Linked DNA regions of Homo sapiens: all the other regions are linked to region 1. The links come from fine-mapping of genetic effects on plasma protein levels. A gene starts in region 1. Each other region holds a variant in brackets. All regions are shown on one strand. Distances are between the middles of the regions.

Region 1 (2,763 bases):
CTACACTTTTTTTTTAAGTGTCGGGCAGAATTGTTGCTGAGAATAACAAATAATATCTGCCATGTTATCCGTGAGCAAAATCAGAAAAAAAAAGTCCAAGTGTATTAGAGCTGTTAGTTTCCACGTTAACCCTTAAGGAGCAAAGCTCAAGAGTTCTAATTCCACTAGGTGGGGGGGGCGGGAATAGAAGGAAAAAACCCCTTTTCCTTGCTTCTGGTGGCCTATTTGTAGTCATGAACAGCATTTCTTTGTTTCTCTCTCTCTTTTTTTTTTTTTTTAAAGGCAATCCTCCCCCCACCTCCTCCCCCGCAGTTATTGAAAATGGAGACCTCTGTAGTCACTAGCTCTGGGTTGATATGGCTCCACCGTTGCTCGCAGGGGTCTGTGTTTTCCGCTACTTGGACAAAGTGACATTGCTTAAGCCTTTCCCCCCACCAGGTCTGACTTTCTGCAGAGCCAGTGATTGCAGAGGAAAAGCTGTAGTTTGCTTAAAGGAAATACCTCCAGGAAGGAGGGTCTCGGGTGGGTTCCCAAGTGGGGAACTAGGGGGACTTTTCCGTAGGGAATTGGGGTGGGCTCTTCAGTGAGGGGCTAGGGGCTCGTTTCTGGGGCCAAAGACGGGTTCCCTAGTGTGAGGGCGCGCTCGACTCGGCGCTGTCTTGGGGTCTCGCACTCGCACGGCTTCGCACCCCACCGCCTGCGACTCCCAGGCCTTCTCTTCCCCGGGCGCCCACTCCATTCTCGGGAAGAGCAGCCGGCACTGGAGGGCAGAGACTGCCCCAGGGGCGGAGCTCCCTCTCAGGCGGGAGGTAGGAAAGTGCAGAGCCGCCCGGGCAGAGGCACAGACGTCCCTGCGGGGCTCCTCCTGAGCGTCCCTCCTGCCAGCCAGGGTCGCAGCCGCAGCGGCGGCCGCAGCTCTTAGCCCACACAGGACTTGTAAACTCTTACTGCACCCTTCTCTCCCATTAGGAGCTTTTCCTCCCTCCTTCCCCCCAACCCCTCTGTCCTCCTCACTTTGGGGAATTTAATGCTTTCTTTAGCATCTTTTTGTGTGCGTGATCTAGGGGAGGAGACACCCCAGAGCTCCAACTAGCTCTCAGCTGAATTCTACTTTTGTTTTTATGTCTTCCTCGCCTCCTCTCGTGTCCCTCTTATCTGACTGATCTGCGAAGTCTGATGCTTCTGCCAGAGGGAGAGGAATAAATAGATGTTGCTGCTTCCGAAGGCTTAGACGTTGGGAAAGAGCAGCCTGGGCGGCAGGGGCGGTGGCTGGAGCTCGGTAAAGCTCGTGGGACCCCATTGGGGGAATTTGATCCAAGGAAGCGGTGATTGCCGGGGGAGGAGAAGCTCCCAGATCCTTGTGTCCACTTGCAGCGGGGGAGGCGGAGACGGCGGAGCGGGCCTTTTGGCGTCCACTGCGCGGCTGCACCCTGCCCCATCCTGCCGGGATCATGGTCTGCGGCAGCCCGGGAGGGATGCTGCTGCTGCGGGCCGGGCTGCTTGCCCTGGCTGCTCTCTGCCTGCTCCGGGTGCCCGGGGCTCGGGCTGCAGCCTGTGAGCCCGTCCGCATCCCCCTGTGCAAGTCCCTGCCCTGGAACATGACTAAGATGCCCAACCACCTGCACCACAGCACTCAGGCCAACGCCATCCTGGCCATCGAGCAGTTCGAAGGTCTGCTGGGCACCCACTGCAGCCCCGATCTGCTCTTCTTCCTCTGTGCCATGTACGCGCCCATCTGCACCATTGACTTCCAGCACGAGCCCATCAAGCCCTGTAAGTCTGTGTGCGAGCGGGCCCGGCAGGGCTGTGAGCCCATACTCATCAAGTACCGCCACTCGTGGCCGGAGAACCTGGCCTGCGAGGAGCTGCCAGTGTACGACAGGGGCGTGTGCATCTCTCCCGAGGCCATCGTTACTGCGGACGGAGCTGGTGAGTTTTGACACGGCCCACCCTTCCCTTACCCTACAGCCTCCTCAATTCTTGGAGTCCTTGTTACTAGCCTTTACTCTCTAATTTTTTTCTCTTCGGATCACTTAATCTCTCCCATAACTGCTCCTCTATCAAAGACCCTTCTTCTTCTTTCTTCTTTTTTCAAAAACAAAAACAAAAAAACCCTCACCTTATCACCTTCCAAACTGATGCACTCTGGCACTGTGTTCCAATAGGCGATCTTTCTAAAACAATCCATGCATTCCAAACCCATCACACTTCTACTCCACAGGAATCCTTCACTTCAACTCCTTACATGTGCAAGTAGCCACATTTTGTAAAGTGATGCTCTTTTTCTTTTAAAATGTGTTTATAATCATTGGGTTTTCTTTGCTGATTCTCAGGCAATCTCAGTCATCAGGTTTCTGTATCTTTAGTGTCTTAGATGCTTGTTAAGATTGTGTGGAGGAAACAGAAAACTGAAGCCCCATTTTCTTCTAATTAAAAATGCCAAGATAATTTCAATAACCTTACTCTAACCGACAGATGTTAGGGGTATGTGTTTGCTCAAGATCCAGTTTGAGCAATTACCTTCACCTTAAATTTCCCCCTCCTTTCAATGAGATAAATTGTTCTTCCATTCCAGAATGAAACAATTGTGAAACATTGCTATGCACTGTTAATTAGCTTCTGTGGCTTGCCATAGAGCTGGCAGACTGAAATTACTGAGCTCTTTTCACATGCCCACATGCCTTCAAGTCATTTTATAAGTGGCATACAGATGAAAGGAGTTATATTTAAGGCGTGTTATCATACACTCACGTAATGTTATTT
Region 2 (2,763 bases), 62 kb before region 1:
GTAGCTTCCAGGAAGATAGAAAGGAAATGATCAGCTATGTAGAGTTAATTGGTGGTACTAACAAGATCAGTGTCAGTGAGGTTTTATGGGCAAAAGGCTGAGTAGTGAGTAAGGGAGATTAAGGGAGAACAGGAGGAAAGGATTTGGAGATAACTAGAAGACAACTCAAAGAGTTCTATTGTAAAGGGAAGCAAAGAAATAAAATCTCACCAGCTGGAGGCAAGAGCAAAGTCAAGAGAAGGATTTTTTTAAGATGGAGGAGATTACAGCATTTGTATGCTAATGGGAGATGGTCCAGTAGATAGCAAAAAATTGAGATCTAGGAAAGGGTATTCTGTTTTTATTGTACTAGAGTTATTCACCATCAAGAGTTTTATATAAAACATTTAGAAATTTTTAAGACCAGCCCTTAGAAATGCAGTACTCAGAATCCTGTAGATATTTCTTGATTTGTCTACAAAGTAAATATAGCATTTCATCTCTTTCTACTACTAAAATGCCCCTTCTGCCTCCTTGAGGCAGCAGCATGGTGTTTGAGTTCATCAGTTTTTTTTTTTTTTTCATTTAACAATGCAATTTTGTTTCCTCATTCATACAGTATGTTACATTTAGTCACATGGATAATTATAATTATTACTTGATTTGCTACAGCTGTATTTTTTGTAGTCGACCAAATCTTTAAAACATATTTCAGCTCTTTTCTTACATTCAATTCTTAATTATATCTAATGGTGATTAGTAGCCTAAATAACCCACAATTTGAGTGCATATCACAATAAATGTTTTAGAAAGGGTTATGTCTTGAAAGCTTTAGAGCAATGCTGGGTATTTTTATTCATGACTAGTTTCTTCTGTCTTCTTCTGTCTTCTTTTATTCATGACTAGTTTCTTCTGTCTTCTAAAATAGAGAGGTTGAAAACCCATTCCACTTTCCACATTTATGTCTTTTAAATAGTAAATTTCAAATTATATTCATATCTCTTTCAAAAAGTAATTAAGATTTTTTTGGTGATTTTGCAGAATAATTTATAAGTTTTCTAAATTGTAAATAGAACTGTCTCATAAAGTAATAATTCCTCATTAGTTTTCAATTAGGAAATTGTAGGATTGCAGTTATCCTAACTGTATTTTTTGTTCTATAATCTTACAATTAAAAAAAATAAAATCTTACCTTACTGTTTTATCAGACGTCCTTGAAATATGCCTAAGTAGTTGATAATAGTCCATTGTAATATAAACTGTTTCTACTTTATATTTTTATAACAAAATTGTGACCAATTCTATAGAATGCTAGTAAAATAGTTTACTATTTCAAAAAAAAAAGTAAACCATTTTTAAAATAAAAATCTGTTTAGTTTAGATTATCAAATCTTAACTAATCTTGAAGAAATACCTTGATTTTATTCTTAATTTTTGTCTCTTAGAAAACATTAGTCCAGAAGAAGAGTATAAAATTGCCTGCCTTCTCATGGTGTTTGTGGCAGTTTCTTTGCCAACACTGGCCAGTAATGTGATGTCTCAGTACAGCCCTGCTATAGAAGGTAATAGTGGTTTAAAATTGTTTTGGCGATGAATAAATCATGGGTTTTGGTATTTTATAATAAAATATGAGTTAAGTTCTGCCACTAACTGGCAGTGGAACATGGGGTAGTCTGTTTCCCTTTTCCT[A/G]AACTGCAGTTTCCTGATATATGAAATGTGTGTAAGTAAGCTCATGTGTGCCTGAATGTGTGTAGAGGTCGGTGAGGGATTATCCAACTCATAGGATTATTTTAAGGATTGAATGGTAAAATGTTGTAAAGCAGCTAAGCACTTCCTTTTTATTTCCGAGCTACTATAAAACTGATGTGTGATTTCTTTTAGATGTTTTCAGAAGTGTTTGCCTGTTTAACATATACACGATCGTTTGTTACTCTCCTGTTAAACTAGTTTTAAAAACATCAGTGTTCATGAAAGTCAAAGGAGAGCAAGTCCGGTCATGTCCCAACTCTACTCTTAATTATGCCCCTATTTATGCAGATTGTGAAGTCATTAAAGATTTGCCTTCTATGTATTATTTGCTATTTTGGGGTCTACACAACCCTATTTGCATTTTCTCAGGGCATTGCAACAACATACATTGCTTGGCCAAAGCCATCAACCAGATTGCTGCAGCTTTGTTTACAATTCACAAAGGAAGCATTGAAGACCGTCTTAAAGAATTTCTGGCGGTATGTATAATCAAATAACAAAACTCATCACATTTTATAAAGAAAACTAAAATTCACAACCACAAAATGTAAGAATAAATTCTCTTTATTTTTACATTTTATTTAGTGTCCTCTAATGGCATTTTGTTTTCAAATTATTTTCTCAGGTATATGAATTTCAGTCTCCTTTTATTTTTATTTGTTTATTTTCTTTTTTGGAGGGAGAAACAGGTGAAGGTGGGGCATTAAAATCGAGGAGCCGTCCGTTATTTCCCTTAGACTCGGAAGTCTCTTTCCCAACTCTAGAGCTCTGCAATATGACCTTTTTTCCCCAAGCTGATGTTTGGACTGCCCTAGAAATTTTCCTAGGCTTGAAAGAGAAAAAAAGCAAAGGAAAATTGAGGCCAAGAGAGAAGCTATTCCCTCTAAAAAGACATATTTTACTTTTTTCCATTTCTTTGGAGAAAGACAATTAATGGTGAAAAATTCATCATTAAAAATACTACTCACTACCAAGAGAGAGGAGTGCTAAATGTAGCCTCATGAAACATGGTTTTTAGTTTCTCTATCAATGTAG
Region 3 (2,763 bases), 67 kb before region 1:
ATCAATTGGTAATATTTTGTAAATTTAGGGGTTGCCATTTAAAAATAATTCTGTATTCTTATTTGTTATCCTGCCTAGGTCTTATCCTACCACATTCCTTTTCTTGTAAGTTCAATTGAAGATTTTAAGGATCACATTCCAAGGGAAACTGATATGAAGGTAATAATATAATTTATAGTTGGGGTTTACAGTCTCTAAAGCGAAATATTTAAATTACATATGCAAGAAAATGTAATAAATCCTAAACTACTGTAAGGTTTCTAGTTTAGAGTGGTTAGTTAGCATGCTTGCCTTTGTAATTGAATCTTTGAGAGCTCAGCACCAAAATACTACCTAGGCATTTTGAAAGTCAGTCTTCTTTGATCACCTATAGCAATGCAAAATTGACTAAAAATAGATTTTTTTTTTCCTTAAATGGATAGCTGTTTATACATGGTGATAAAGAAAATTAAGAAAGATGAGGTGGCCAGGCACGGTGGCTCACGCCTGTAATCCCAGCACTTTGGGAGGCCGAGGCTGGCAGATCACGAGGTCAGGAGATCAAGACCATCCTGGCTAACTCGGTGAAACCCCATCTCTACTAAAAATACAAAAAAAAAAAAAAAATTAGCCAGGCGTGGTGGCGGGTGCCTGTAGTCCCAGCTACTCGGGAGGCTGAGACAGGAGAATGGTGTGAACCTGGGAGGCGGAGCGTGTAGCGAGCTGAGACCTTGCCACTACACTCTAGCCTGGGCAACAGAATGAGACTCCGTCTCAAAAAAAAAAGAAAGATGAAGCAATGAAATAATAGTCGTTTTAAATACAATGAAATTCAATAAGTTTAAGATAGATGTTAAGTCATTTCTTATAAAAGGATGTAATTGTAGGCTGTAATTTTAAAAAGATTTTTAGTATTCTATTATATGTAATATATATATAAAACAGCAGGTTGGCAGACTTCTGTGAGCTTACAGTTTTTGTTTTGAAAATCTATTGAGCCATGAAATCCAACTATTGATCTAATCCTAGTAATGATTGACCAGTGGTTATACATCTAGTAAGTGATATATCGGGGTTTACATTTGTGTTTTCTAAGCTGACACATTTCTTAGAGAGATTGTTTCTGTTTCACATATCTTGAAAAACACCGACTGAAAAAAATAGTGTCTAAACTCCTTTGTATGACACCAAGACTCTTCTGAAATTGGTGCCACTCAGGCTGGGCATGGTGGCTCAAGACTCTAATCCCAGCACTTTGGGAGGCCGAGGTGGGCAGATCACCTGAGCAAGGTGGGTGGATCACTTGAGGTCAGGAGTTCGAGACCAGCCCGACCAACATGAAGAAACCCCATCTCTACTAAAAATACAAAATTAGCCAGGCGTGACAGTGCATGCCTATAATCCCAGCTACTCGGGAGGGTGAGGCAGGAGAATCTCTTGAACCCAGGAGGTGCAGGTTGTGGTGAGCTGAGATTGCGCCACTGCACTCCAGCCTGGGCAACAGGAGCAAAACTCCCGTCTCCAAAAAAAAAAAAAAAAAAA[T/AAT]GTGGTGCCACTCAAACTTTTTGAGGCTTATCTTCTGCCACTTCTTTCTTCCTTCTCTCACTCTCTTTCTTACTCTGTCCCTCTTTTTATATGGTATTCTGTGAGCTAACTAGATCTTTCTGTTGCATTCTCACATCTATCTGTTTTACCTTCTAATTTATTCTACTTGAAAATACCAACCTTTTCTCTTTCTGCCTTTTGAAATCCTGCCTGTATTTTAAGGCTTGATTCAATTGCCATTTTCTAAGAACCATTCCTAGATTCTCCAATGATAAAGAACTTCTTCTTTCTTAGTGTTATCAGAGAACTTGTTTATCTCCTGTGGAGTTGAATATAATCTGCCTTGTATTATAATTCTATTTTTCTACTTATATTTATACCAAATGGTATATATCTTGAAGACCCAGACTTTGTTTTTTTGGTGTTGTTGCTGTTGTTTCTCTTACAGTGTTTTGTGCAGAATAAACATTTGAGATCAGTGATTGTCTTGTGATTCTATGATTGAAAACTATGTACAAATAGCTCAAAATGATTTCCTAAGTGGAAACACTGCAGAAAAAATAAAGTTAAGGAGACAAAAACTAATCAGTTCTTGAGAAGACACTGATGTGCAGAATTATAAGAATTCTAATTAATATTCTGAGCAACCATTCACTTTTCACCTGACATAATCATGTTTAGTTTCCAGCAAACTTTCAATAGAACTTAACTTTTAAAAAAAAAAACAACAAAAAACAAAAACATGTTTTTAAACAGCTTTATTGAGTTATAACGCACCTATCAGAAAATTTACTCATTTAAAATGCACAATTCAGTGGTTTTTAGTGTAGTGACAGAGTTGTTCAACCATCACTAAAGTCAGTTTTAGAACATTTTCATCATCCCCAAAAAGAAGCCTTGTACCCATTAGCAGTCACTCCCCATTCCACTTCTCCCCCATCCCCAGCCCTAGGCAACGACTAATCTACTTTCTGTTTAAATTAGCCTACTTTGGACACTTACATAAATCATCATGTGTAGTCTTCTGATACTGGCTTCTTTCACTTGGCATATTTTCAGGATTCATACATATTACAGCATATATCAGTACTTTTTTTAATGATTGTTGAATAATGTTTCATTGTATGGGTATACAACATTTTGTTTATTCACATCAATTGATGGACATCTGGGTTGTTTTCACTTCTTAGCTATTAGAAACACTGCTACTGTGAACATCCGTGTACAAGTTTTTAATGTGTG

The links. A credible set is the group of variants that fine-mapping cannot tell apart. PIP is the posterior inclusion probability: the model's chance that the variant is causal. Sun 2018 read protein levels with aptamers (SomaScan).
Region 2: its variant is the best candidate, but not a certain one, in a credible set for the plasma level of the FRZB protein (Sun 2018, PIP 0.57).
Region 3: its variant is the best candidate, but not a certain one, in a credible set for the plasma level of the FRZB protein (Sun 2018, PIP 0.78).

The regions. Positions count from the first base shown.
Region 1 is chr2:182,865,241-182,868,003 of GRCh38, reverse strand. It overlaps FRZB (frizzled related protein), which reads left to right and starts at 1,367. Exons shown (of 6, transcript NM_001463.4): 1 at 1,367-1,929. The coding sequence starts at 1,452. RefSeq lists an enhancer at 1,236-2,204.
Region 2 is chr2:182,927,561-182,930,323 of GRCh38, reverse strand. It overlaps NCKAP1 (NCK associated protein 1), which reads left to right. Exons shown (of 31, transcript NM_013436.5): 28 at 1,425-1,541; 29 at 2,098-2,207. Among named protein-coding and RNA genes, the nearest start is that of FRZB, 62 kb to the right of the region's middle. The variant A/G (reference allele first, on the strand shown) is at 1,669.
Region 3 is chr2:182,932,148-182,934,910 of GRCh38, reverse strand. It overlaps NCKAP1 (NCK associated protein 1), which reads left to right. Exons shown (of 31, transcript NM_013436.5): 26 at 79-159. Among named protein-coding and RNA genes, the nearest start is that of FRZB, 67 kb to the right of the region's middle. The variant T/AAT (reference allele first, on the strand shown) is at 1,522.